Linked DNA regions of Homo sapiens: all the other regions are linked to region 1. The links come from fine-mapping of genetic effects on gene expression. A gene starts in region 1. Each other region holds a variant in brackets. All regions are shown on one strand. Distances are between the middles of the regions. Region 1 holds the start of MIB2 (MIB E3 ubiquitin protein ligase 2). Region 2 has its middle 12 kb from the start of SSU72-AS1. Region 3 overlaps MMP23B (matrix metallopeptidase 23B).

The links.
Region 2: its variant is fine-mapped to the expression of MIB2 in whole blood (TOPMed, PIP above 0.99).
Region 3: its variant is fine-mapped to the expression of MIB2 in whole blood (INTERVAL, PIP above 0.99).

What each region holds. Positions count from the first base shown.
Region 1 is chr1:1,611,400-1,621,719 of GRCh38, forward strand. MIB2 (MIB E3 ubiquitin protein ligase 2) reads left to right here and starts at 4,101. Exons shown (of 20, transcript NM_001170687.4): 1 at 4,101-4,234; 2 at 5,109-5,215. RefSeq lists an enhancer at 3,596-3,765 and silencers at 3,866-4,915, 4,946-5,035.
Region 2 is chr1:1,582,122-1,592,441 of GRCh38, forward strand. No RefSeq gene overlaps it. Among named protein-coding and RNA genes, the nearest start is that of SSU72-AS1, 12 kb to the left of the region's middle. The variant T/A (reference allele first, on the strand shown) is at 5,322.
Region 3 is chr1:1,632,696-1,641,244 of GRCh38, forward strand. MMP23B (matrix metallopeptidase 23B) reads left to right here. Exons shown (of 8, transcript NM_006983.2): 2 at 88-218; 3 at 286-425; 4 at 493-660; 5 at 1,053-1,217; 6 at 1,294-1,404; 7 at 1,507-1,633; 8 at 1,756-1,959. The coding sequence ends at 1,930. CDK11B (cyclin dependent kinase 11B) reads right to left here. Exons shown (of 20, transcript NM_033486.3): 10 at 8,353-8,418; 11 at 7,582-7,757; 12 at 5,805-5,895; 13 at 5,067-5,188; 14 at 4,713-4,818; 15 at 4,386-4,507; 16 at 4,202-4,309; 17 at 3,987-4,103; 18 at 3,638-3,786; 19 at 3,242-3,431; 20 at 2,530-3,161. The coding sequence ends at 3,069. Among named protein-coding and RNA genes, the nearest start is that of MMP23B, 4.8 kb to the left of the region's middle. RefSeq lists an enhancer at 185-996. The variant G/T (reference allele first, on the strand shown) is at 3,583.

The DNA of each region.
Region 1 (10,320 bases):
ACCTTCCAGTAGAATAAGCAACTGTCCAGACATGGGCCCTCCCCAGGAAGTTACTAGGGGTCTTACTTCAGCAAAGTAAAGGAGTAAAGCCAGAAGGAGGAGGACGCAGATTCCAGGAAACAGCTGTTAACAGAAAAGCCAAACTCTGAATAAGACATTCTTTCCTCCTTCTTTTTTTTTTTTTTTTTTTTTGGAGACAGAGTTTTGCTCTCGCTGCCCAGACTGGAGTGCAACAGCGCAATCTTGGCTCACTGCAGCCTCTGCGTCCCGGATTCAAGTGATTCTCCTGCCTCAGCCTCCTGAGTAGCTGGGATTATAGGCGTGTGCCACCACGCCCAGGTAATTTTTGTGTTTTTAGTAAGAGACGGGGTTTCACCACGTTCCTCAGGCTGGTCTCGAACTCCTGACCTCCTGATCCGCCCGCCTCGGCCTCCCAAACTGCTGGGATTACAGGCGTGAGCCACCACGCCCGGGCTCTTCTTTTTTTTAAAGAGGGCTTCATTCTGTTGCCCAGGTTAGAGTGCAGTGGTGCGATCTCAGCTCACTGCAGCCTCCGTTTCCCAGGCTCAAACGATCCTCCCACCGCAGCCCCCAGAGTAGCTGGAACCATAGGCACGTGCCACCACACCCAGCTAAGTTTTGTATATTTTGTAGAGATGGGATTTCAACATGTTGCCCAGGATGGTCTCTAAATCCTGGGCTCAAGTGGTCCAATCACCTCAGCCTCCCAGAGGGCTGGGATTACAGGCATGAGCCACCATGTCCAGCTTCACAAAATACTTTCAAAAGGTTTACTTTGAGCCAATATGAATGACTGTGGGCCCCAGGAAAACACACATCCGAGAAGCCTTCAGTAAGTGGTTCTGAAGTGGTCGGTTTAGTTTGGTTTTGTACACTTTAGAAAGGCAGGAGTTATAAGCAAAGACATAAATACATACATAGAAGGTATACGTTGGTTTGGCCTAAAAAGGTGGGATATCTTGAAGTGGGGGCTTATAGGTTATAGGCGGATCCACCCGGCTGGAAACTCAGTTTTAAAAATTTCTCTGGGGTCCCCTTGGTCAAAAGGGAATCTGTTCAGTTGGTGGAGGGCTGGCTGGGTGTGGTGGCTCACATCCCAGCACTTTTGTTTTTTCTTTTTCTTTTCTTTTTTTTTTTTTGTTTTTTTTGTTTTTGAGACGGAGTCTCACTCTGTCACCCAGGCTGGAGTGCAGTGGCCAGATCTTGGCTCACTGCAACCTCTGCCTCCTGGGTTCAAGCAATTCTCCCACCTCAGCCTCCCAAGTAGCTGGGACTACAGGCGAGCACCACCAAGCCCGGCTAATTTTTGTATTTTTAGTAGAGATGGGGTTTTGCCATGTTGGCAAGGCTGGTCTCCAACTCCTGGCCACAGGTGATCCTCCCACCTTGGCCTCACAAAGTGTTGGGATTACAGGCGTGAGCCACTGTGCCTGGCTGGTTTTTTTTCTTTTTTTTTTTTTTTGAGACAGAGTCTTCCTCTGTCACCAGGCTGGCGTACGGTGGCATGATCTTGGCTCACTGTAACCTCCGATTCCTGGGTTCAAGCCATTCTCCTGGCTCAGCCTCCCAAGTAGCTGGGATTACAGGTGCCCACCACCACACCCAGCTAATTTTTGTATTTTTAGTAGAGACGGGGTTTCACCATGTTGGCCAGGCTGGTCTCGATCTTATGACCTCATGATCTGCCTGCCTTGGCCTCCCAAAGTGCTGGGATTGCAGGCATGAGCCACCGCGTCTGGCTTTTTTTTTTTTTTTTTTTGAGACGGATTCTTGCTCTGTTCCCCAGGCTGGAGTGCAGTGTCACGATCTCAGCTCACTGCAACCTCCACCTCCTGGGCTCAAGCAATTCTCCTGCCTCAGCCTCCCAAGTAGCTGGGACTACAGGCGTGCACCACCATGCCTGGCTAATATTTTTTTTTTTTGTATTTTTGTATTTTTAGTAGAGACAGGGCTTCACCATGTTGGTCAGGTTGGTCATGAACTCCTGACCTCAAGTGATCTGCCCTCCTCAGCCTCCCAAACTGCTGGGATTACAGGCGTGAAGCCATCGCACCCAGCCAATCCCAGCACTTCAGAAGGCAGAGGTGAGCAAACAGCATAGCCCAGGAGTTTGAGACCAGCCTGGGCAACATGGTGACACCCTGTCTCTACTAAAAATTTAAAAATAACCGGCATGGTGGTGCATGTCTGTGGTCCTAGCTACTCAGGAGGCTGAGGTGGGAGGATCACTTGAATCCAGGAAGCAGAGGCTGCAGTCAACCAAGATAGTGCCACTGCACTCCAGCCTGGGCAACAGAGCAAGACCCTGTCTCAAATACAAAACAAAACAAAAAACAGTTGGTAGAGAGCTTAGGATTTTATTTTTCGTTTACACAGGGAATCCAAGAAAGGAGACAGACAAAGTGAGTCTCAAGGATGAGAGCAGAGAAAAGCTCGAGATAAGAGCTGTGCAGCCGGGTCAGGAAGTGATCGGTCTAGGTCGGAACAGGAGAATCAGTTAGACACAACGGATGTGTTTGAGCCTTTGGAAAACGGTATCGTTAGGCATGTGGCGAAAACGTTGGGGTACTTGAAAAAAAGGCTGGCCATGGGTTAGTAAAAAGCTAGATATGTGAAAATATTAGGTAATTATTAACTCAAAAGAAAAAAAAAGATTGTACAGGAATTGTGGCATGGTTTTATACTGTAGCAGTGAACAGCAGGTACTCAATCATGAAGAGCTAAGCCTGATTTCATCACGACAGCTGTGAAAGTTGCAGGTACCAAAATGGAACTACTTCCACCAATCCCTAAACAAATGGAGTCGGGAGGCCACGAAGGGGGAGCTCTCATGCAGGAATACCTGCAGCAGGCCTCCTCACAAGACGCTCCTGCACGTCCTGCACGTTTGCCTGTAACCGGACTTACTGCAGGGAAATTCCTCAGGACTGCAGTATTCTAGATAAGCAGCTTGCACAAGGACGTCGGCCTGGTAAGGCTCTCTCCAACAACAAGCTAACGCCCACTCCTGCAGCAAGCGCCCACAGCCAGTGGTTTTTGTTACAAAACAACTTTTGTGAGCTCATCTGTATTTTCCCCTTCGCCCGGCCCTCTCAGATAGGCCTATGATCTGTCATGGCACGAACAGCCTAGGCTGCAACCCCCTGCGATTCCCAGATTAACTCACTTGTCCTGGAGAGCCTGCCTCTGGGTTTCCTTTCAGGTTGACAGTTTGGGAGCTAACAGGACCACGTGAGGGGTGCAGCGGGGAAGATCAGCCAGGTTCTCAGGGACCTTCTCCGGAAGTACGCAATGTCTACAATTAAGAAATGAGAGGCCGGGCGCGGTGGCTCACGCCTATAATCCCAGCACGTTGGGAGCCCTAGGAGGGCAGATCACGAGGTCAGGAGTTCGAAATCAGCCTGGCCAAAATGGTGAAACCCCGTCTTGACTAAAAATGCAAAAATTAGCTGTGCGTGGTAGCGCATGCCTGTAGTCCCAGCTGCTCGGGAGGCTGAAGCAAGAGAATAGTTTAAGCCCTGGAGGCGGAGGTTGCAATGAGCCGAGATCGCGCCATTGCACTCCAGCCTGGGCGACAGGGCGAGGCTCCGTCTCCAAAAAAAAAAAAAGAAAGAAAGAAAGAAATGAGAAACTAGCAGTGCATTGTTCAGAAACGCGGAGACTTCTCTCAGGAGAAAGCGAGAAGCAAGCGTCCAACTCTGGGGTGCAGAACCCGGGGCGGGAGGACGGGCCCGGACTGCCGTTTCTCGCTGTGTCCAGGTCTGCGTGACTCAAAACCCCGGATAGGGCCCGCACTGGTGGAGTCGGAAAGAGGTGGCTGCGGCGCGGCAAGTGCCGCCAGTGCCAGCGAGCGCGACGTCGCTCCCAAGCCCCCGTCTCTATGGCAACCGAGTGCGTCTCTAGGACCGCCACTGCGCAGGCGCCCGGAGGCTAAGCCGCTCGGAACCTAGCTGCGCCACGCAGGGTAGGCGACGCAGACGCTCCCGCGTGACGCACTTCCGGTGCTTGCCCTGCCCATCCCCGTGGCGGGGGCGTGGCCATGGCGGGGGCGCTCCGGCGGGGGCGGGCCCTGGGCTCCCGCCCTTCGGGTCCCACAGTTTCCAGCCGCCGCTCTCCTCAGTGCCCGGTGGCCCAGGAGGGCCTGGGAGCCCGAAGCCGTCCCCGAGTCGCTCCTAGGTCACTGGCGCGATGCGGGCCGTCCTCTCGGCTGATGGTGCGTGCGGGCGCGGATCTCCTCCCCTGGTCCTCCGCACCGTCCCCGAGTCGTTCTCCGCTCTGGCAGAACGCGAGCGCCGTCCGGTTCCCGCTCCCGCTGGCCCAGCAGCCCCGGGCTGGACTCGGCGTAGGGTCCGCACGGGATGGGCTGGGGCTGCGCGCGCAGCGCCGCCGCGGGGCCTCCTGGGAGTTGTGGTCCGGCCACCCGCGCGGGACTCCAGCTCCCGGCAGGCCTCGCGCGGCCCGGGGCCAGCGGCGCTGGGGTCGGCGCTGGGGTCGTCGTCCGGGCCGGGTGGGCTGCGGCGCGCGGCAGGCGCTCTGGCCTGGCCTGGCCGCCGCTGAGCAGTCGGGGCCGGTGGGTGGCCTCGAACGCCGGGACAGACCGACAGACGGACTGGCCGGCGGTCCCGCGCCCCCGAGCGGAGCGGGCGGGACGGAAACGTCCGGGCAAGTTGGGGTCGGCAGGTACTGCGCGGCCCTGGCAAGGTCTGGCAGCGGACAGGGCCGGGCGGCCTCCGCGAGCCACGGGCACGAATGACAGGGGGCGGGGCGCGCTCCGGGTGGGGGTGCCCGCCGTGCCCGCCCCTGGCCCGCCCGTTCCCCTGCGCCGGCGCCCGTGCGCGTCCCGGAGCCTCCTGACGTCTGCGAGCCGCGGCCGCCAGACCCCGGGCGCACGCAATTACGGGCCCGGCGCTGGCGGCTCCTGCGCGCTCAGACCCCAGGGAGCCCATCCGGGCAGGCGGCGGCCCTGAGTGTCGCGGCCGTGGGCCCGAGTGGACCTGGAGCCGGCGGGCAGCCCCGGGGGCAGACAGGCGACCGAGCCGCGGGTCGAGGTGCTAACTGTGCATCTTGGCATCTCCCCTCGGCCACAGGGTTGGAAGCCCAGCGAGGCTAGAGGCCAGTCCCAAAGTTTCCAGGCATCAGGGCTGCAGCCCAGGAGCCTCAAGGCGGCCCGGCGGGCGACTGGACGGCCGGACAGGTGAGCTCTTGATCGTCCGCGGCCTGATAGTTTGCACTTGGCTCTCCCACTTTGGGGCTCCGTGGAAGCCACGTCAGAGAGGCTGTGTTTGTGTCTGAGCATGCATGCGAGTGGAGGGGAGTGGTGAGTAATCCCGCGTCTCCTCTCTGAGTTCGGAACCCATGGAGGAAGAAAGCAGAGGTGCCAGACAGGCCTCTGATAGGCACCTGCAGGATTGGGGCAGAGCGGCCGCAGCGCAGGAGCGCCGGCAAGCCTGGCCCTTCCCGGGAGGCCCCCTTTGTCCGGTTCCACCCTGGCCTGTTGCCTCACATGCAACAAGTGTCTGAATGTGGCGCTCTCCTGGCCGAGGGCAGCCCTGGGCGGTGAGTGGGATGACACCCCAGCCTGCAGGGTGCCTGTAGGTCTCCACCCAGATGGGCAGGATTGGAGGTGGCCGCAGCGCTCGTGGGCTTTCCCTCAGCAGGTGTCTCCATGCTGGCCTCCCCGCCTCAGGGCTTCATCCCACTCCGTGGGCCTGATCTCCCTGGGGCACCTGGGATGTCCATCTGCGTTAGCTGGAGCTACTCCATGGCCTGTGGCGTGCCACACACAGCGGCATTTCGGTGTCATTAGGCACAGCTGGAGGTGCAAGGAGGAGGGCAGCCTCATGTCCAGTTCCATGTAACTTGCTTCTTCTGAATAAAGGCAATTTGCTAACTTTCTCGCTAAATAGGATTTGGTTTCTATGGCTTTTAAAGCTTCTCCGATAAAATACTTGCAATAAGGGAACTCTCTCCTCCTACACTCTCCTGACTGATGGTTCGGAAGTCCTCCTGCCCTCTGAGAGCTTGCAGTTTCTTGTGAAAAAGAGAAACTAAGCAGCAATAGAACAGACCCGGTGTCTGCTTGCGTGGTTAAGACGGTAAATGCTAAATGTGTGACACTGCCTTTAGAAACCATTTTCTCCAGCCTGGCTTGCTGGCTGCCCGTCTGGTTTGCTGTGTTGTGTCTCCAGTGGCTTTAGCTTCCAACAGGAAAGCCTGGTAGCCGAGCGAATCTGTGACCCAGGAAGTAGCAATTAAATGCCTGGGACGCTGCCTCGAGGCTGGTGTGTGCTCTGAGGTAAGTTCCGATTTGCCAAAGCACATCTGTCGATCTGTCGCCCGAGTCTTCACACCCTGACTGCCTCCATCATTTTAAACATCGGGAGCAGTTGCCTGCAGCGGGGTTCAGATGCCAGCCAGGGGCACAGCCTGTGAACTGTGGGTAGATGGCAAAGTCTAGCATTTCTGGCAAAGGAAAAAACATTTGGTAACTCTCTGAGTAAATTTCTGACTGAGATGAAGATACCCATTGTGGGGCAGCATCCTGAAGCGGAAGCCTGGGCTGTATGTTTCCAAGAGGAGGAGCAGGAGTGGCCACAGCCATGTACGCCACGATGTACACCAGGGGCTGCGTGGCCACAGCTCTGGTCTGCTGGTCTGCTCCCTGGAGCCCCTCCACCAGTGCTGGGCTGTGGCTGTGGCTGTCTCTGGTTTGTCTTTCTGGGAAACCTTGGCCAGGTTGGTGTGAGGGCAGGGCTAGCCTTGGACATCTGCACTTCCCATAGCAGCCTCTGGCCCAGAGCTCACCCGCTGTGGGCAGGTGATCAGGGTGATCAGGTCCCACGGGTCCCCTCCTCTGCACCTGGAGCCTTGTGGGTGTAGAACAGAAAAATAGGAGGGGGCAACCCAGAGGCCTCCTGCTCTCCAGGAAGGAATGGATGCTGGACAGGTCCAGGGTGGAGGCAGAGGGAGTGAGGGGCCCTTGGGGGAACATCTGTCCTAGAGGGCTTGATTTCCAGGCTGCCCACCCCACTCCTACCCCTAATCTGGTGTTCCTCACCTGCCTCCAGGAAGTCCTCACCTGAGGTCTGCAGCGGGTGTGCCAAGCGCCAGCCCCACATCACCTGCTCCCAGGCCTGCCCAGGGGATGGGTCCTGTGGCCAGTACCCTCGGGGTCAGCTTGACCCAGACCCAGCCCAGAACCTGTCCCATGGCCCCAGGAGGACAGGATGGTCAGGGAAGCCCAAGGGATGAGCCCTTTTGTCCACAAGCTTCCCTCTGACATGGGCAGGCTGCTTGTGCGACCCCACAGCCCCCACCTCTCATGAACAATGGGAATGGGGCAGGCCCCTCGATGCTGGGCTGGATCCTCCCGCCCCTAAGCAGGTGCACTCTGTCCCCTTTGAGAAGAGACCAAGGGATACAAGTGCTGGGTCCTGGCGGGGTGCCCCTCCTCCCTGCCTGTGGGGGTCTCATTACTGCCTCCTGCCCCCACCACAAACACCCCCTAGAGAGGCCTTCGGAGGCAGGTACTGAGCCCTGGGGCCAGGGTGCCAGGAGCCCAGTGGCAGGTCTTGGGTGACTGCTGGCCCTGGGGCAATGGTGAGAAAGCCAGGCAGGCAGCTGCAGGAAGGAGCTGAGGAGAAAGGCGGCAGAGCCTCAAAAGCTGCTGGCGGCCGGGCACAGTGGCTCACACCTGGAATCCCAGCACTTTGGGAGGCCGAGGCGGGCGGATCACGAGGTCAGGAGATCGAGACCATCCTGGCTAACACGGTGAAACCCCCGTCTCTACTAAAAAATAGAAAAAATGAGCCAGGTGTGGTGGCAGACGCCTGTAGTCCCAGCTACTCGGGAGGCTGAGGTAGGAGAATGGCGTGAACTTGGGAGGCGGAGCTTGCAGTGAGCTGAGATTGCGCCACTGCGCTCCAGCCTGGGCGACAGAGCGAGATTACGTCTCAAAAAAACCAAAACTGCTGGCCCCTCCAGAGGGTCCAGGATACTGAGCTCCTGAGCCTGGGATCCACGCGCATGTGGTCTGTCTGCACACTGGCACCGCAGAAGGGTTGGCAGGCGGGCAGGCATGGCTGGAGACCCCGCTCAGATGAGGCGGCCACTCCAGGGCAGTGCCATGCTGGACAGAAGGGACTGCCTTGGAAGTGGGACAGACCCCAGACCCTTGGGGTGGGGGCCCTGCAGGGGAGGCCTTGAGGAGGCGCCGGGTCTACAGGCCCCTGTGTGCTCACATCCCAGCCCCCGGGGAGAGGTGGGAGTGGGTGGGCGCACCCAGCTCCCCTGTCCAGGCTCGTCCCCCTTGTTGGGGCAGCCCTCAGCAAGTGGGGGGCTGGTTCCAGGCACAAGAAGTGAGGCCAGGGAGGAAGCCCTGCCTGTGTTCAGCCCAGTTGTGCCCCAACTCAGGTGGGCTTCCATGAGGGACAGCCTCTGGGAGGGTGGGGGTTTGTGGGCCAGGGCTGGAGAGCTGCCTGGCTGTGCTAAAAATACCGGGCATGCTGCAGACAGGTGCCAGTCTGGGGCACAGGCTACCCTGTCTCAGGCTGATGGCCTTGGCACTCCACCCCACTGCCCCTGTGACGCGGGGGCCGCCAAGGCTTGGTCTTGATTCCCAGAGGCCCTGCTGGTGACCTCCCCGACATCTCTGCCCTCTGCCCATCCCCCCAAGGGCAAGATTTGCCAAAGCACAGGACACATTGGCTCACACATGGGGCACCCTGCCCCTGTCTTTTTGGAAAGGTCCAATGGCATATGGCCAGCGGGTCGGGCAGGTGTGGCCGCTGGCCTGGGCTAAGCTGGCTGTGGCTGAGAGTCTGGGCGCAGAGACAGAAGGCGCCCCCTGCTGCAGAAGGATCACAGTGTGGGCTCATGGCATTGGCTTTTTTGCGGTCCCAAGTCCTTCATCTCCATTGCCGGGCCCATCTCGGGGGTCGGCAGATGCGTGTCCCCTACTAGCAAAGACCTCCAGTCGGTTCTGCGGCTGCCTGTGATGAGCCCTGCTCTGGCTAAGTGGAGGTGTTTGGCAGGGAGGAGTCCCCGGCTTAGTGTGATTCCAGCTGTGGCCGATTCTGGTGGGATCCTGGCAAGGAGGAGGTTGCGTGTGGATCTGGTGGAGGTGGACGGCCTGGCAGGGGGTGGGGTCTGCAACCCTAAGGAGCAGTGCCCCTCTCACTTGTCCCCCCGCCAGCAGACTGCTGCGTCGGCCTCCCCGGCCTGTGCCATTCTGTGGCGAAGGTCCCTGTGTAGAGGAGGCTGGAGTGGGGGAGCTCAGCCCAGGCCATGCCTCACCCTTCTTGGGTGCTCCATGGGCAAAAGCTGAGGTCAGTTTGTGGATCCTGGGAGCAGGAACCCTGCAGAGCCTGCCCCCCAGCTGGTGGCAGAGCAGGCAGTGGGGAGCTGCTGGGGCAGGAGGGAGTGACCTCCCTCCAAGACAGCCCCCAGTGGGGATGGGAGGGTCTGCAGAGATCTGGAGAGTCAAGTGTCATGACCCAGGTGGGGCCATGGAGCTGGGCTGGCCGGTGGAACTGTGTCCACCTGGACATGCTCTGGGTGAGGCGCAGTCAGCGCTGGGATGGCTAGAAGCGGCCTGTGCTGGGCGGGTCCTCGGGACACAGGGGCTGCCGCTGTCACAGAAGCCTGGCACAGATTCTCTCTGGTTCTTATGTTTCATTCATGCAGCCATTCAGTCAAAGCTGAAGCTGGTGGGGTCCTGGCCAAACAGGACGCAGCAGTGCACCACCTGGGGGCTGCCCTCAGAGGCCCCGCGAGGGGAATAGTGCCACAGGGGCCCATGGGGAGGGCCTGTGGGTCACCCTGGGTGGTGGGTGGGCTCCTGGCTCCGCGGGGCCTCCGAGGGCAAGGTGGGGTTTCTCTGGCTGCCGGCTGTGGAAGCCGCTCATGCGGAGGCCCAGCCGGGAGGCTGCAGGAGGCCGTGGGGAGGGCAGAGCCAGCTGCCTTCCCTGATGGCTGTGGAGCTGCCCACGGGACCCCTCTCCTTGTCTGGGGCTCACTGGTGCCACAGGAAAAGGAAGCCCCGGTGCTGGAGCCTGCCCTGGCCCAGGCCTTGGTGCACATCTCGGCAGCGTCACCCGACAGGTGAGGGAGGCAGCGTCACCCGACAGGTGAGGCCTCTGGACAGATGAGGCCATGTGGGGTTTCCCTGAAGAAGCAGAGCCCGGCTGCTGGGTGGGGGCTCCTCTTAGTCACTGACAGGGAGAGCTGTGCTTGTAAAACATCCACCCATTCCTGTGGAAGCTCTCGCGGTCCTGGGCAGGGTGAGGAGGGAGCATTGGA
Region 2 (10,320 bases), 29 kb before region 1:
ACCCTATGGCTACTAAAAACACAAAAATTAGCCGGGTGTAGTGGTGGCACATGCCTGTGATCCCAGCTACTCAGGAGGCTGAAAATCACTTGAACCTGGGAGTCGGAGGTTGCAGTGAGCCAAGATCGCGCCACTGTACTCCAGCCTGGGTGACAGAGCGGGACTTCATCTCAAAACAACAACAACAAAAAACAGACAATTGGATCCCAATTATATGATAGTATTTCTGACAAAATGGGACATGTTCACATGGCTAAACTTTATTTGCCCAAATAGGTGATCTAATGAAGGATACAGACCAAAATTTGGGGGATCGCAGTTTGTATAGGAGGTTTATTATTTTAAAAAACCTCATTTTACCATTTTTCCCATTTCAAATGATTTGGGGTTATGTATTCACATGTTTCTCCACCTCTCCCTTTCCCCCAGGACTCTTGGCTTTCAGAAGCCCCTCTGGAACATCCCACCCAGTAAAACCCCATCCCACCAGTGCAGAAAACATGGTGCCCCTATTATAGTGGATCCAGCCTTGAAGAGGCCTCACCCTGCCTCAACACCTCTTCCCCAAGACCCTGACGGCCAGGACAGTGTCTTTTTGCCTTCAGACTAGGCAGAGTGAGGTCCCCTGAGAGAGATAAATATTGTTATTTCCCCACCCAAAGTTATTTGCATTAGGTGAAAAATGGCCACACATTCTTTGTGGTTCCTCTCATCAAGACATACGGTCTCTTTCTCATCCCTTGAATCCGGGCAAAGCCTTGTGATTTGCTCTGATCAAAAGAACTTAGTAGAACTGACGTTGTCCCAGCCCCAGTTCCAGGCCCAGAACCCAAGAAATCTTGCAGCTTCTACTCTCACTCTCCTGGAGCCCTAAGGCTGAAGCAGCCTGCTAGACAGGCCACCCCAACCAACAACCTGTCACCTGCCAGACAAGTGAGTCAGGCTGTCCTAGACCATCCAGGTGTAGCGGATGTGACAAATGACCACAGCTCCATGAGGGTCCGCAGGTGAGCCCAGTGCAGATTGCCAACCCACAGAATTGTGGACAAATACGTGACCTGTTTTTGCTGCCAAATTTTGGGATGGTCTGTTACACAGTGAAGGCTAGCTGATACGCAGTTCCTCATTTCTCCTCTGGTGATGAGATCCACTTTCATTTCAGGAGGCAGTGTGCCAGTCTCAGTAGATGGAACACAATCCACAATCGGTCTATTCAACCATGACAATTTTATTCCCTACTGTTGGGGAAGTGTCTCGAGTCAGACCCTCCCCACCAAGTGCAAAGAGAACGCATCTCAGCTATCCCTTCTGCCAGCCCAGCCTACGGGGGCCAGATGTATCTTCTGGGCTCTTAGAAGTGTCAGTCGGTGCCATGGGGACTGCTCCTACAAGTCTGGCGTGGATGCCCCCAGGTACACCCTGAGGTCCGAGAGGGTGGACTGCACAAGCTTGTCCAGGATGGCCCTTGCTGCAGCTACCGGTAGGCTGCGTGCCAATAACAGCCGCCAAAGGAGTAGAAGTAATCACCAACCTGGGTCCCTTTGATCCAGGACATCCGTGGGGCACACTGTCTGGGTCTTCCTAGGTCATGTCCACGAGGTTCTGCGTCTCGGCTGGGCCCAGCACAGATGGTGGCAGCTACGTGAGCAGCTCAGTGGCACGCCGTGCACCTGGGAATGCAGCCCGACTGGGCACTCCCGCCCTGCACACCGTTGCAGGGCCTGGGACCCGGGGCTGCCCCAGCCCACATCCACCCTGCCCGATCGATGCTCCTCCTGCACACAGCCCCGTTACCACTGCCACTGCCCCAAAGCATAAAAATTTTTTTTTTTTTTTTGAGATGGAGTTTTGCTCTTGTTGCCCAGGCTGGAGTGCAATGGCATGATCTCAGCTCACCACAACCTCTGTCTCCCGGGTTCAAGCAATTCTTCTGCTTCAGCCTCCCGAGTAGCTGGGATTACAGGCATGCGCCATTAATTTTGTATTTTTAGTAGAGATGGGGTTTCTCCATGTTGGTCAGGCTGGTCTCAGACTCCAGACCTCAGATGATCCGCCCGCCTCGGCCTCCCAAAGTGCTGGGATTACAGGCGTGAGCCACCGCGCCCGCCAATTAATTTTTTTTTTTTTTTTTTGAGACGGAGTCTCGCTGTGGCCCAGGCTGGAGTGCAGTGGCGCAATCTCAGCTTACTGCAAGCTCCATCTCCCAGGTTCACACCATTCTCCTGCCTCAGCCTCCCGAGTAACTGGGACTACAGGCACCCACCACCACACCCGGCTAATTTTTTGTATTTTTAGTAGAGACGGGATTTCACCGATTAGCCAGGATGGTCTCAGTCTCCTGACCTTGTGATCCACCCACCTCAGCCTCCCAAAGTGCCAGGATTACAGGCGTGAGCCACCGTGCCCGGCCAGTTTTGGGGTTTTTTTGTTTTTGTTTTTGTTTTTGAGACAGCGCCTTGCTGTGTCGACCAGGCTGGAGTGCAGTGGCATGATCTTGGCTCAGTGCAACCTCTGCGTCCCGGGTTCAAGCAATTTTCTTGCCTCAGCCTCCTGAGTAGTTGCAATTACAGGCGTGTGCCACCACGCCTGGCTAATTTTTTGTATTTTTAGTAGAGACGGGGTTTCACCATGTTGGCCAGGCTGGTCTCGAACTCCTGACCTCGTGATCCTCCCACTTTAGCCTCCCAAAGTGTTGGGATTACAGGCGTGAGCCACCGTGCCTGGCCACCCATCAGTTTTAAAATGTGCCTGAGTTAGAGCAGAACAGAAGCTGAGAAAAATTAAAAAGAAAGATAAATAAGTACAGTTTGCCCAAGTTGGGCCATAATATAGCCTGCTGGAGAACCAAAAAATCTGCTGTGACTTAATGTTTGAGAATCCCATTTCATTTCTTCTTATTTTCTGAAGAGCAAAGAAGCTTCCATAGATCCTATCAGGAATTGTCAAGCACATGGACCACTGTTTCAGATGGTGGCGACAGACCCAGTAACTTTCGTTGTTGTTTTGTTTTCTTTTGAAACAGAATCTCACTCTGCAGTCCAGGCTGGAGTGCAGCGGTGCAATCTTGGCTCACTGCAACCTCTGCCTTGTGAGTTCAAGCGATTCTCCTGCCTCAGCCTCTAGACTAGCTGGGATTACAGGTGCATGCCACCATGTCCAGCTAACTTTTTTTGTTTGTTTATTTGTTTGTTTGTTTGTTTTGAGACGGAGTCTTGCTCTATTGCCCAGGCTGGAGTGCAGTGGTGCAATCTCGGCTCACTGCAAGCTTCACCTCCCGGGTTCATGCCATTCTTCTGCCTCAGCCTCCCAAGTAGCTGGGACTACAAGTGCCCGCCACCACGCCTGGCTAATTTTTTTTTTGAGATGGAGTCTCGCTGTGTCGCCCAGGCTGGAGTGCAATGGCGCAATCTCAGCTCACTGCAAGCTCTGCCTCCCAGGTTCACGCCATTCTCCTGCCTCAGCCTCCCAAATAGCTGGGACTACAGGCACCCGCCACCACGCCCGGCTAATTTTTTGTATTTTTAGTAGAGACAGGGTTTCACCGTGTTAGCCAGGATGGTCTCGAACTTCTGACCTCGTGATCCACCTGCCTCGGCCTCCCAAAGTGCTGGCATTACAGGTGTGAGATACCGCGCCCAGCCAAGACTCTTTTTTTAAAAACAAACAAGCAAACAAAAATTATCTGGACATAGTAGAACCAGCCTGTGGTCCCAGCTACTGAGGAGGCTGAGGTGGGAGAATCGCTTGAGCCTGGGATGTTGAGGCTTCAGTGAGCCAACACTGTGCCACTCCACTCCAGCCTGGGCAACACAGAGAGACCATGTCTTAAATAATAATAATAATAATAATAATAATAAAATGCAATTTTAAAAAGAGGGAAGCACAGCCACAGAAGATTCTCCAAGGCAGAGCATGCGAACCACGGAAGCAGAGAGCCCATAGGGCTCGGCGAGCATGGGGCACTGGCTCCAAGAACCGCCAGTTCCTTCTTAAAGTGACCTTCCTTCAGGTCCTGTTTCAGAGCATCATTTATGTCAAACTAAATAACAGAGAGGGGTTCTCTAGCAGAAAATGATATTTATTCGAAGAGGACAGCCAGAAGAGGAAGAGGGCAGGGAGGCGACCAGGATGACCAGCTGCAGAGAGGAGTACCTTCTCCTCTGTCCTCCGCTGAGAGCTGCCCAGACAACCTGTCAGCAGAGAGGAGCTACCTCTACCCTGTCTGTGGAGAGCCTGAGACCTGCGGAGACATCCAAACGACTTCCTGTGGAGAGGAGCCGCCCTCTCCAGCCTCCTGTCTGCCAAGAGCTCAACACTCACCGGGAGGATGCTGTTCTCACATTAAATAAACTCTTCTTTTTCTTTTTTGGGACGAGGTCTCACTCTGTCACCCAGGCTGGAGTGCAGTGGCGCGATCTTGGCTCACTGCAAGCTCCGCCTCCCGGGTTCATGCCATTCTCCTGCCTCAACCTTCCAAGTAGCTGGGACCTGGGACTACAGGCGCCTGCCACCGCGCCCGGCTAATTTTTTGTATTTTTAGTAGAGACGGGGTTTCACCGTGTTAGCCAGGATGGTCTCGATTTCCTGACCTCGTGATCCGCCCGCCTCAGCCTCCCAAAGTGCTGGGATTACAGGCGTGAGCCACCACGCCCGGCCTTAAATAAACTCTTCTCCACCAAAAGTAAAAAAGTAAAATATTTATTCAGGAATAGGATTGCAATGGGAACGCGTGTGCCACAGTAAAGTATGTGCATATTCAGGGAGGTAGAAGAAGACAAAGGTTTTTTTTGGTTTTTTTGTTTGTTTTGTTTTGTTTTTTTGAGACGAAGGCTCGTTTTGTCGCTCAGGCTGGAGTGCAGTGGTGCGATCTCGGCTCACTGCAACCTCCGTCTCCCGGGTTCAAACAATTCTGCCTCAGCCTCCCGAGTAGCTGGGATTACAGGAGCCTGCCACCACACCCGGCTAATTTTTTGTATTTTAGTAAATACAGCGTTTCACCGTGTTGCCCAGGCTGGTCTCGAACTCTGGAGCTCAGGCAATCCGCCCGTCTCTGCCATCCAAAGTGTTGGGATTACAGGCGTGGGCCACTACGCCCTGCTGGTTTTTTTTTTTTTTTTTTGAGTTGAAGTCTCACAGCTCTGTCACCAGGCTGGAGTGCAGTTGCGCAAGCTTGCTCACTGCAACTGCCCCTTCTTGGTTCAAGCGATTCTCCTGCCTCAGCCTCCTGAGTAGCTGCGACTACAGGCACCGGCCACCACGCCCATCTAATTTTGGGATTTTTTTTTTTGAGACGGAGTCTCGCTCCGTCGCCCAGGCTGGAG[T/A]GCAGTGGTGTGATCTCGGCTCACTGCAAGCTCCGCCTCCCGGGTTCACGCCATTCTCCTGCCTCAGCCTCCCGAGTAGCTGGGACTACAGGCGCCCGCCACCACGCCCGGCTAATTTTTTGTATTTTTGGTAAAGATGGGGTTACACTGTGTTAGCCAGGATGGTCTCAGTCTCCTGACCTCGTGATCCGCCCGCCTCGGCCTCCCAAAGTGCTGGGATTACAGGCGTGAGCCACTGCACCAGGCCTAATTTTTGTATTTTTTAGTAGAGACGGGGTTTCACCATATTGGTCAGGCTGTTCTTGAACTCCTGACCTTGTGATCCTGCCCACCTTGGCCTCCCTACGTGCTGGGATTACAGGCGTGGGCCACCGCGCCCAGCCAAAGACAAAGGTTTTTAAAGGAAAGATGAGAAGGATGACTTCATTGTTTTGAAATAATTATCCTTGGCTGCACTTTGGGAGGCCGAGGCGGGCGGATCACGAGGTCAGGAGATCAAGACCATCCCAGCTAACACGGTGAAACCCGTCTCTACTAAAAATACAAAAAATTAGCTGGGTGTGGTGGCGGGGGCCTGTAGTCCCAGCGACTCCGGAGGCTGAGGCAGGAGAATGGCGTGAACCCGGGAGGTGGAGGTTGCAGTGAGCCGAGATTGCGCCACTGCACTCCAGCCTGGGCGACGGAGCGAGACTCCGTCTCAAAAAAAAAAAAAAAAAAGAGGCCACCTCCACATCCTCGGTTTTCCACCCCACCACCACTTAGCTCCAGGAATAATTCCTTTTTTTTTTTTTTTTAACAGAGTCTCTCCATCCTGGCTAACATGGTGAAACCCCGTCTCTACTAAAAATGCAAAAAAAAAATTAGCCTGGCGCGGTGGCAGGCGCCTGTAGTCCCAGCTACTCGGGAGGCTGAGGCAGGAGAATGGTGTGAACCCAGGAGGCAGAGCTTGCAGTGAGCCCAGATCGCGCCACTGCACTCCAGCCTGGGCAACAGAGCGAGACTCTGTCTCAAAAAAAAAGAAAAAAAAAAAGAAAGAATTATCCTTGGCTACAAAGATCAATAACAAGGATGACAACCATCTGAGGGTGGACAGGCAGTCCTGGGCGGATGTCCTCACAGAAGTATTTCTGTGTGTGTGCAAGGTTACAGTGGACTTTGTGCAAGTATGCGGTTTTTGGAATCCTTTGTGATAGTTTTGAGGCATGCAGGCCTGAGACCCCCTTTCATGGCCTTCCTTAGCTCTGTGTGTCACGGTGGCCTCCCGTTTTGCTTCGCTTCCCTTCTTCCCTTCCCTTCCCCCGTTTTTCAACCCCAGAGACTCTACTTTGACTCTGAATCAGAACTAGGTGAGCTGAGAAATGAAGGCATGAAGGATGGCAGCCGCGAAAAAGCACTCTGTGCACCGAGCTGGGGATCCCAGTGGAAGGCAAGAATTATCCCTGGAGCAGGCAGGGCGCCGTGGCTCACGTCTGTAATCCCAGCACTTTAGGAGGCAGAGGCGGGTGGATCACCAGTCAGGAGTTCAAGACCAGCCTGACCAACACGGAGAAACCCCGTCTCTACTAAAAATACAAAATTAGCTGGGTGTGGTAGACGCCTGTAATCCCAGCTACTTGGGAGACTGAGACAGGAGAATGGCGTGAACCCGGGAGCTGGAGGTTGCAGTGAGCCAAGATCACACCACTGCACTCCAGCTTGAGTGACAGAGCGAGACTGTTTTTATTTATTTATTTATTTATTTATTTATTTATTTATTTATTTTTAGACGGAGTCTCGCTTTGTTGCCCAGGCTGGAGTGCAGTGGTGCGATCTGGGCTCACTGCAAGCTCCGCCTCCCAGGTTCACACTATTCTCCTGCCTCAGCCTCCCGAGTAGCTGGGACTACAGGCGCCCGCCACCGCGCCAGGCTAATTTTTTTTTGCATTTTTAGTAGAGACGGGGTTTTACCATGTTAGCCAGGATGGAGAGACTCTGTTAAAAAAAAAAAAAAAGAGAATTATTCCTAGAGCTAAGTGGTGGTGGGGTGGAAAACCGAGGATGTGGAGGTGACCTCTTTTTTTTTTTTTCGAGACAGAGTCTCGCTCTGTCGTCCAGGCTGGAGTGCAGTGGCGCGATCTCGGCTCACTGCAAGCTCCCCCTCCCAGGTTCACCCCATTCTCCTGCCTCAGCCTCCCGAGTAGCTGGGACCACAGGGGCGCGACACCACATCCGGCTAACGTTTTGTATTTTTAGTGGAGACGGGGTTTCACCGTGTTAGCCAGCATGGGCTTGATCTCCTGACCTCATGATCCGCCTGCCTCAGCCTCCCAAAGTGCTGGGATTACAGGAGGTGGCTTTTAATAAAGCTAGGACGGGAAGGACCATGGACCCTGGTGGAAAACAGGCTCCTTCTCAGAAAGAGGTCAAGAAACTCAGACACCAGGGCGCTGGGGACCGTTTCACGGGTGCTGAAGTCGTCTACCATTGCTTTTGTGGTATTTTAGAGAAAAAGGCTGAGAACCAGGTGTTGGAAATCTTTAAGGATGCCTGGGGCTTCCTTGGGTGACAGGGATCGGGGGAGAGTTGATGCCTAAAGGAGGAGGCCGGGCTTTGTGGGGCGCGTGGCCATCTAGGCGATAAATGAGGGCATCGCCCACTCCTGCCCTACGTGTACCTGAGTATTTCACGTGCGGAGCACAGAGTCTAAAGGACCCGCACCACCTACATTAGAAATAAGAAACGTAGGCCGGGCGTGGTGGCTGATGCCTGTCATCCCAGCACTTTGGGAGGTCAAGGCGGGTGAATCACCTGAGGTCAGGAGTTCGAGACCAGCCTGGTCAACATGGTGAAACCGTGTCTCTACTAAAAATACCAAAATTAGCTGGGCGTGGTGGTGGCTGCCTGTAATCCCAGCTACTCGGGAGACTGAGGCAGGAGAATCGCTTGAACCTGGGAGGCGGAGGTTGCAGTGAGCGGAGATCGCGACACTGCACTACAGCCTGGGTGATAGAGAGAGACTCCATCTCAAAAAAAAAAAGAGTTTTGAGAACTGTGCCGTCTGACAAAGTGTGCACCGAACATAAGAGGTTATTTGTTTAAACTTAAGTTTAACGGCCAGGCACGGTGGCTCATGCCTGTAATCCCAGCACTTTGGGAGGCCCAGGCGGGCGGATCACGAGGTCAGGAGATGGAGACCATCCTGGCTAACATGGTCAAACCCCGTCTCTACTAAAAATACAAAAATTAGCCGGGCGTGGTGGTGGGCACCTGTAGTCCCAGCTACTTGGGAGGTCGAGGCAGGAGAATGGCGAGAACCTGCGAGGCGGAGCTTGCAGTGAGCAGAGATCGCACCACTGCACTCCAGCCTGGGCGACAGAGCGAGACTCCATCTCAAAAAAAAAAAAAGTTTAACTAAAATATAAAATGGAGGTCCTCAGTCACAGTAGCTGCAATTAAAGTGTCCCGTGTGGGGGGCCCTAATTAGGGGAAAGGAGTCGGGCTGGAGGGAGCAGGGGAAAGCAAAGACAGAAAGGAGATGGGCTGTAGGTCTGCCTTTCTGTATGGCCCTCCTGAACAAGTAATGCACGTAACTCACAATCTTCCTGCTCACCATCAAACGCCTCAAATTACCAAACACCCTGGCTGACAGGAGAACGCAGGTGAAGCTCCCCGCTGCCTTGGCGTTGGCCATCAACCCAGGAGCCACCCTACAAAACGTCCAGCAAGTCTTTGTCTCCATGCAGTTGGCCTCTCTTGCTGGCTGCCCGTTGCCTCCTTGCAACATGTTTTCCTACTTTCACTAACATATGTGCCTTTCTCTACCTACAACTGTCTTGGTAAATTTTTTTTTTTTTGAGACAGAGTCTCACTTGGTCACCCAGGCTGGAGTGCAATGGCGCGATCTCGGCTCACTGCAACCTCTGCCTCCCGGGTTCAAGTGATTCTCTTGCCTCAGCCTCCAGAGTAGCTGGGACTACAGGCGCACACCACCACGCCCAGCTAATTTTTGTATTTTTAGTAGAGACGGGGTTTCACCATGTTGGCCAGGCTGGTCTCCAACTCCTGACCTCAGGTGATCCGCCCGCCTTGGTCTCCCGAAGTGCTGGGATCACAGGCGTGAGCCACCGCGCCCGGCCGATGGTAAATTCTTTTACCCCCATGCTACTGGCCCAAACAGTTGTCGCTGTCCCAAGACACAGTGTCCACAGTGACTCGTAGCTACTGTGTCCTCCACAGGATATGATGAAGCCCATTAACTACGAATGTGACCTTATTTGGAAATAGGGATCTTTGTAGGCGTAATCAAATGAAATGAGGTCATGTCAAGTTAGTGCAGGCCCTCCTGCTGTCAATGGTGCTGTGCCACAGGGAAACATGCATTGCTCTTCCTCCGTTTCATGACACACAGCTCCTGAAATCCTTGGATTAGCCGGGTGGCAGGTGCCTGTAGTCCCAGCTACTTAGGAGGCTGAGGCAGGAGAATGGCGTGAACCCAGGAGGCGGAGCTTGCAGTGAGCAGAGATCGCGCCACTGCCCTCCAGCCTGGGCGACAGAGCGAGACTCCGTCTCAAAAAAAAACCAGAACTCCTTGGTGTGGGAAACCCCACACTCCTGGGACACAGAAGTGTGGACTGTTGAGTGAGAGAAGAGGAAAACAGCACTTCGTTTTTCCCAATATTACAGGTATCTTTATAAAAGAAAGGAGAGAGATCTGGACACAGTGACGGTGGAGACAGGCAGACAGATCACCCTGTGAGGACGGAGGCAGAGACTGGGCTGATGCGTCTACAACCCAAGGATCACCAAGAGAAGCTGGCCGGGCGCGGCGGCTCACGCCTGTAATCCCAACACTTTGGGAGGCCTAGGCGGGTGGATCACCTGAAGTCAGGAGTTGGAGACCAGCCTGGCCAACATGGTGAAACCCCGTCTCTACTAAAAATACAAAAATTAGCCAGCTGTGGTGGTGCATGCCTGTAATCCTAGCTACTCGGGAGGCTGAGGCAGGAGAATCACATGAACC
Region 3 (8,549 bases), 20 kb after region 1:
CCGTTTCCTTCCAGTCCATTTTCCGCGGCAGTTTTTGGTCCTGGGGACCGTCACCGATGCCTCCCACGCACGCTTTCTTCCCTGAAGGGAGACGTCGCTGCGCTGGGCCTCTCGGCGGTCCCCCCCACCCGGGTCCCGGGCCCACTGGCCCCCCGCAGACGCCGCTACACGCTGACTCCAGCCAGGCTGCGCTGGGACCACTTCAACCTCACCTACAGGTGCGCCCTGGCTGGGCCCCGGGGGAGGGGGCGCGGCCGGCGCCCGCTGAGCTCACTCTCCCTGCAGGATCCTCTCCTTCCCGCGGAACCTGCTGAGCCCGCGGGAGACGCGGCGGGCCCTAGCTGCCGCCTTCCGCATGTGGAGCGACGTGTCCCCCTTCAGCTTCCGCGAGGTGGCCCCCGAGCAGCCCAGCGACCTCCGGATAGGTGGGCGCCCGCCCCCGCCCCGGCCCGGCCCTGCGCGCCCGGCCTCTCAGCCCCGTGCTCCCCCCAGGCTTCTACCCGATCAACCACACGGACTGCCTGGTCTCCGCGCTGCACCACTGCTTCGACGGCCCCACGGGGGAGCTGGCCCACGCCTTCTTCCCCCCGCACGGCGGCATCCACTTCGACGACAGCGAGTACTGGGTCCTGGGCCCCACGCGCTACAGCTGGAAGAAAGGTGACCGTCCAGGCTGGCCTCCTGGAGGCCTCTCCTCTGCAGCACAGTGGGCTGCCGCGGTCGGGCTTTGGGGCAGACGGCAGGAGGGACCTTCCGGGGTGGTGGCTGCCACTGGAGTCTAGCAGGCAAGGAGGGGAGCCCGTGGGAGCCCCCATCCCGGCAGCCCTGAACTCCCTTTCCCATCCCCCTGCGCCTCTGGAGCGGGAGCTGGAGCTGCATTCCTGGGGGCCGAGCTCACCGCCTGGGCCCAGAACATTCTTATCTTTCCGTGGCTGCGGCCGAGGGCGGCTCCGCGGCTGCGCTCCAGCAGATACACCGGGCCTCGGGGAGCTGGCCCACGGGCGGCGGGGCTGGGCCCGGGGCTCCCAGGCGCTGACCCCCGGGGCCCGCAGGCGTGTGGCTCACGGACCTGGTGCACGTGGCGGCCCACGAGATCGGCCACGCGCTGGGCCTGATGCACTCACAACACGGCCGGGCGCTCATGCACCTGAACGCCACGCTGCGCGGCTGGAAGGCGTTGTCCCAGGACGAGCTGTGGGGGCTGCACCGGCTCTACGGTGAGTCCCTTTGTCGGGCGGGAGGGCGGGGACCGGGCGGTCCTGAGCCAGGCCGTGCTCCCCACGCTCCCGATAGGATGCCTCGACAGGCTGTTCGTGTGCGCGTCCTGGGCGCGGAGGGGCTTCTGCGACGCTCGCCGGCGGCTCATGAAGAGGCTCTGCCCCAGCAGCTGCGACTTCTGCTACGGTGATGCCCACGGGGCCGGGACAGGGCTGCGTGGGAGCTGGGCCTTGGCCATGGTCGGGGCTGAGGGGGCACTGACGGGGCTCTTTCCCCCACCCGGAGCAGAATTCCCCTTCCCCACGGTGGCCACCACCCCACCGCCCCCCAGGACCAAAACCAGGCTGGTGCCCGAGGGCAGGAACGTGACCTTCCGCTGCGGCCAGAAGATCCTCCACAAGAAAGGGAAAGTGTAGTGAGTGAGCGCCCCGGGCGGTCCTCGGGGTGGGCAGCCCGCGGGCGGCCTTGGGGCAGGGGTGCGGGGCAGGCAGCCGGGGGGGGGGCTGTGCCTGCAGGAGACGCCCCGCCCCCCTGCAGCTGGTACAAGGACCAGGAGCCCCTGGAGTTCTCCTACCCCGGCTACCTGGCCCTGGGCGAGGCGCACCTGAGCATCATCGCCAACGCCGTCAATGAGGGCACCTACACCTGCGTGGTGCGCCGCCAGCAGCGCGTGCTGACCACCTACTCCTGGCGAGTCCGTGTGCGGGGCTGAGCCCGGCTGATAAAGCACTTTCTCTCTGATGGCTCCTCGCTCATTCTTGGGAGGGCAGCGGGCAGCCAGTCTGGGCAGGTGGACACCCCAGCCCCTGGTCCACCGAGAGCTGGGCGTCCTCGGGGCTGGGCACCCCTGCTTCCCCGCACAGCGGACAACAGGTACAGCACAGGACGGGACGGGCTTTGCTAAGGTGGCCCCTGGGAAAGTGGGATAAGCGGAGGCCCCAGTGACAGGGGCAGCACGTGGAGCAGCACCTGGGGTAGCCCCAGAAGCCTGGGTTCTGTCTAGGACTTGCTCAGAGCTGGGGGAGGGAGGCAAAGGGGGCTTCCTGAAAGATGTGGCTGGGATGGGCCTCCAGGATCTTCTGCAAGGAGATGTGGGTGGGGGCTGGGAGGACTGGCACAGGGTGGGGGACCACCTTGCCAGAGTGGAGGCCCCCCAGGAGGTAGGAGCTCCCCTCCTGCCTGGGGAAGACACTGGCCCACATGGGGTCAGAGGCCACAGCCGCCCACCCCACCCTCTTCCCCTAGAGCCCGGTGGTCTGCGACTCCCCTCCCACACATGGTCCCGGGTCACTCAAAGGACGACACGGGGAGCTTTCCTCGAAGAATATTTTAATACATTTTAAAACTCAACAACCTTGTATAAAAACCTGTCGAGTCTGCTGGCACAGCTGGGGCTGGGGGTTGGGGGCCGGGGGCCTGTGTGGACAGGGCTGGTCTGGACGAGTGGGTTGGGGCAAGAGGGCATCGCTCATCCCAACACAGAAACAGGTCTCCAGCTCCGAAGATTAAACAATCCACCCGGCTCCCACCAGTTCCTTTCCAAATCACGGCCCAGCCAGCCCCGTGCGTGTCGAGAGTGGGAGAGGGTGTGTGGAGGTTTGTGCTGCCCCACGTGGGCACCCGAAGATGTCCACCCTCTCCGCCCTGGGCAAGTCACGGAGAAAACACAGCTCTTTCCTCCACAACAAGGAAAATGATTTAATTCTACAAATTTACAAACCAAAATACAAAAACAAAACATGGAGCACAAAGTAAGACGAGGAGTTCCGAGTCTCATCGCAGCTCCAGCCGCAGTAGCCACGCCTGTGGTCCCGGCTGAGTTCTCCCCATGACGGGGTCCACTCTGACCTTCAGAACTTGAGGCTGAAGCCGGGGCCCGCGGCAGAGGCCCCCTGGTTCGTGGTGGTAAGGTGGAAGCCCGTCTCCTTCAGGTCGTCGTCACCCTGGGACGAGTCGGCTACCGTGAGAACCCTGCCCAAGCCAGCCCCACCTGTGGGCACGCCCCACCCGCCAGGCCCCTCACCAGCTGGCTGTAGCCCAGGCCTCCCTCAGGGGGCCTCGGGCTGGTGCCCCGCTTCACACGCTGCTGCTCGCTCTTGGCGGGCCACGTGGGGAACATGGAGGGGTCGATGGGGAGGGGGGTCTCGCGGAAATACTCATGCTTGAGGCCGTCCTCAGCGCTGATCCTCCTCCCGGGGAAGTAGGTCAGGAACCTGGGGGGAGAGGGCCAGAGGCCCAGGAGGTGCTCGTGTGCTCCACTGGGTCCCCCAAAGATGGGCTGTGTTGGGACGGGGCTCAGGGCATGGGACGCCAGGCACCAGAGCAGTTCTGGAACGTGGTGAGCCAGCAGGTAGGCCTGGGACT[G/T]GGAAGTCACCGCTATGGCTCGGGACCTCCCGCCACCCGGCTGCACTGGGCTCACTTGTTCATGAGGTCGAAGCCCTGGTCTGAGAGCAGAGCCCCGAAGCGCTTGCGGAGGTTGTTGTAGGGGTGCTCGCTGAAGGTCATCTTCTTGACTGCTGGGAGCTCGCTGTAGCCGGGCCAGATTTTCTCACTAGGGGTCCCCAGATCCTGAAAGACAGAGGTGCTTCAACAGCCACACCAAGTGGCCCACAGTGTTGGCACCTGTGTCCCGTCAGAGAAGACAAGCCACCAGGAGGGCTCTCAGTGGCCCTGGTCCCCATCTCAACCCAGCACCTGTGCGCCCCGCAGCCCCATTCCTGCAACTCCTCCACAACCCCACAGCGCACCTGCAGCAGGGCCAGACCCACCTTGAACACCTTGTTGATCTGATCGATTTCTGACTTCCCGGGGAACAGAGGCTTCTGAGTCAGCAGCTCCCCGAAGATGCAACCCACTGACCACATGTCCACGGCCGTGGAGTATTCCTAAGAGGTCAGGAGAGGTGTTCAGGAGGGCCAGTGCCCGCGAAGCTGTGGGAGGCTGCGTGGGGGACAGGGGAGGCACTCAGACGCCCAGGACTCACCTTGGCACCAAGCAGCAGCTCTGGGGCGCGGTACCACAGGGTCACCACGACCGGGGTGTAGGCCTTCAGAGGGGATCCGTACTCCCGCGCCAGCCCGAAGTCACCCACCTGCAACGACAGATGGGCGGCTGTGAGTGGGCCCCGGCAGGTCTCCCTGGGATGGGCCACTCGGAGGGGGGCTCACCTTGAGGATGCCGGCGTGGCTCAGCAGCAGGTTGGACGTCTTGAGGTCACGGTGCAGGATCCAGTTGTCGTGCAGGTGTTTCACCCCACGCAGCAGCTGGATCATCAGGGTCTTCACCTCCCCTGGGAGGGAGGGAAGCTCCCATGTGGACCTGGCTGCCCCCAGCCCAGGGCACTCAGGGTGGCCCACTCGCCTCGGCAGCAACAGAGGCTTCTCAGGGCTTTCCCTGTGGATGCAGCTGGCCCTCCCTGCAGCACTGTCACCGCGGGGGTGACCAGGACCCTGCCCCCACTTGTACGCAGACAGGCCCCTGGGGCGCGGCTGTACCTGGCAGGAAGGGCTGTTTCATGGTCTCCATCAGGCTCTTGAGGTCGTGCTCCACATAGTTCATCACGATGTAGATCTTGTCCATGTTGCTGCCCACCACAATCTCCTGCAGGGCACGGCTCTGTGGGTGCTGGGCACCTCCAGGCCCCCACCCACCCCTGCACCCGGGTGCAGCTGCTGAGGGACAGTAAGGACCTCCGGTGCCACCCGGGAGGCAAATGCTTGCTTCTGTGTGGTCTGTGAAGGGCTCCACTAAGTGCAGGAGAGTGTAGGAAGCACCCGGCCCCAGGACAGCACGGGGCCCTGTCAGAAAAGCCTTCCACCCGGGGCCAGGCGTGGTGGGGCCATGCTCACTCTAACGGTGACGATGTTGGGATGCTGGGCCTTGAGGATGGTGTTGATCTCCCTCAGCGACGTGATCGGGAAGCCCTCCTTCTCCTTCTCCATCTTCAGCCGCTTTAGAGCCACAATTTCATCTGTGAAGAAAATACAGACGGCACTGAGAGGCATTCTCAAAGTCACGGTACCAACAGTGGACTCGTTCAGTGAGGACCGCAGGCAGTGCCCAAAGCGCCAGCATTTCACGGAGGGGGGTCTCGTTCTAGGTGGGGGCACGTGGGCACCAGGAGAACGCCCCAGCTGAGGTCTGGGCAACACCCACGGCTTCCCACTCAACACACCACAGACACTCACAGCCACCTACAGCCACCTGGGATCCCAGCGGCCACGCCGACTCCACATCGACTTCCCCAACAGAGCCGGCCTCACCTGGGATCCCAGTGGCCGACTCCCAACAGAGTTCCCGGCTCACACACCTGCTTGGGTGGGACGCTGGGAACGCAAACCTGCACACCAGCCCCGGCACAGACCACTCCACGCGCTGGGCCTCGGCCCTGTGGGGCAGGCCGCCTGCTACTGCAAGGGAGTGGCAAAGCCCCAGGGCCAGGCTGACCTCTGGCTTCTAGAGGTGCTGAGGGGTCCAACCTCCAGTAGCTGCTCAGGTGAGGCGGGCCCAGGTGCAGTCGCAGCTCTCGGGCAGCCAGCCCCTGCCCCACTTCCCCTGCCTTTGTGGGGTGAGGGGACCCCACCCACCTGTTTTCTTGTCTTTTGCTCTGTAGACCACTCCATAGGTGCCCTCCTCGATCCTGTTCAGGCACTGGAACTCCTCGACGCTCCGGCAGCCCTGGGAAGGAAGCGCCTGTGTGAGGTCTCAGTGGCCATGCCAGCTGGAGGGAGGGCGGCTGCGTCCACAGGCACGGCACACCCGGCACGGGGCAGGTGCAGGGCAGAGCCTTGGGACTGGGCCGGGGGTGGAGCCGGGAGCAGCTCAGTTCTTTCAAAGTCTCTTTCCTTGCAAAACCATCTGACACTTTATTATGAAACAAAACCAGTGTGAACAAAAGGCCATCCCAGCCAGGTGCAAGGGCTCAGGCCTGTAATTCCAGCACTTTGGGAGGGCAAGGCAGGAGGACTGCTTGAGCCCAGGAGTTCAAGACCAGCCCGGCCAACATAGCAACACTCTGTTTTCTATTTTTTTTTTTTTTTTTTTTTGAGACGGAGTCTCGCTCTGTCACCCAGGCTGGAGTGCAATGGTGAGATCTCGGCTCACTGCAACCTCCACCTCCTGGGTTCAGGCGATTCTCCTGCCTCAGCCTCCCTAGTAGCTGGGAGTATAGGTACGCACCACCACGCCAGGCTAATTTTTGTATTTTTAGTAGAGACAGGATTTCACCATATTGGCCAGGCTGGTCTCGAACTCCTGACCTCTGATCCGCCCACCGCCTCGGCCTCCAAAAGTGCTGGGATTACAGGTGTGAGCCACTGTGCCCGGTCAAAACTCCTTTCTACAAAATAAAAAAATTAGCCAGGCATGGTGGCTTGCGCCTGTAGTTCCAGCTACTCAGGAGGCTGAAATGGGAGGATTGTTTGAGCCTGGGAGGGGGAGGCTCCAGTGAGCTATGATTAAGCCACTCCACTCCGGCCTGGGTGACAGAGACAGACCCAGTCTCCAAAAAAAAAGCCATCCCAAGAGTCTCTTTGTCAAACTGGATGTGTCCCCTGCTTGTACCAGGATGACACTGAGGACGGGCCCTACCTGCCAGGCGCAGCATGATGCCCCATGCCAGGGCACCTACCCCTCCGTGTACCTTGGGGCCGGTGCCCAGGCCGGATGTCATGTACTCGGGGTGGCCTGTGGCCCGACGCCTACGCTCAGCAGCACTAAGGGGCAGAGGCGCTCACAAGGCATAGGGCAGTCGACAGAGGCCTGCTGCATGCGCCAGAGAGAACCTCTCCGCCCACAGGCACCAAGGAGGGGGCCGAGTCCCTGCCGGTCTCCCAGGCCCCAGAGGCCACTGGCACCTTCTCAGGCTTGTCCCTTCCAAATCGCTCCCAACAATATCCTGCCTTATTGATAGCTGCCTAAGCAAAAGGCTTCTGGTCACACATCTACACTGACTCCCGTAGCCGCTCCCCCATCCAAGCCCTGCACAGATGCCGGTAACAAGGCCTTGGTGCCTACATAACCCGCCCACGCAGGGGTCAAGTGGAAGGCACTGCTCTCCAGTGCGGAGGAGGACGCAACTCGGGCAGCAGTGACAGCAGCGCGGCCGCACGCCCAGGCTGCCTTTCAAGCCGCAGAGCAGTCCTGCGGGCAGCTCCCTGTCCACCCAGTTCCGTCCAGCATGAGAAAGAGGCGGGACCTAGAAGCATGAGGGGCCAGTGGCTGTGCCCGCCCGTCACTGCCCCAGTGGGCCCAGCAGCCCTGTGAGGCGACAGACGCCAACACGGGGGCCAGGCTTCGCTCAGCCCCTGTGGTAACTCCGACTGCCAATGCGGACAGTGGCCCGGGGCGAGGGGAGGGCCTGACCTGCAGGGCCGGCAGGTACTTGGGCAGCTCCTGCTTGAGCTCGATGGGCGACAGGGCAGGGGAGTCGGGCACATAGTCGCCCTCTGTCAGGGCGCTGCTCTGCGGCGTTCCCTCACCCACTTCTTCCTCTGCTTCTTCACTCTCCCCGGAATCTCGGTCGAACCGTGACTCTGGAACTGGAAAAGTTGAACCTAATTACGAAGCTAGGAGTAAGCAAGGATCATGAACCTCCTCCTGCCCCGGGGGCATCAAGCGCGTGGCAGGGCTGCCCCGTGTCCCGCTGGGAGGTGCTGGCGCTGGGCTCTCGTCCCCTGGACACAGGGCACCGAGGCCTAAGAGTGCTGGCAGGCTCGGCTGAGACAGAGCCCGGATGCTGAGCTGGGAGGAGGCGTCGGGTGTCATGTGGGGGACAAGCCCACATCCACGTCCACCAGGCTGAGGACATAACCTCACTGCCTGTCGGAGGCTGGGCCAGGCCTCTGCTCTGCAGGGACAGGCCCGGAGCCACCATCTGACGGGCCTCCCCTGTGGGGAACTGGTCCTGGGCTTCCCAGCTCCTCGGCCCTGCTGGGCACTCAGGACGCCCTTGGTCAGCACTGTGCCTCGCTGAGGAATGCGGGCCCCACCGGCACAGCCTGGAGCGGCCAACGAATCAGGCGGCCTCCCAGACCCTGGCGTGCCCCACGCTGCGCAGGACCGGCTGTCTTAGGAGAGGGCTGCTGCACTCGGAGACAGACAAGGAGGGGGCTCTGTCTCCAGGGAGGTTCTTACCAACCAAGAGGTGGTTTTCATTTTCTCGTTCTTCATCTTCACTCATTTCTTCCTCACTTACTTCTTCTGCAAGAGAAAGGAGGCGTCTGCTCAGACCAGCACCGGGGCGAGTGCTGCCACAGGCAGGATGCGGGCTCCGCTTCAGCTAAGCAACAAGTGTTCCCAAGAATGGATATGCAGGCCGGGCGCGGTGGCTC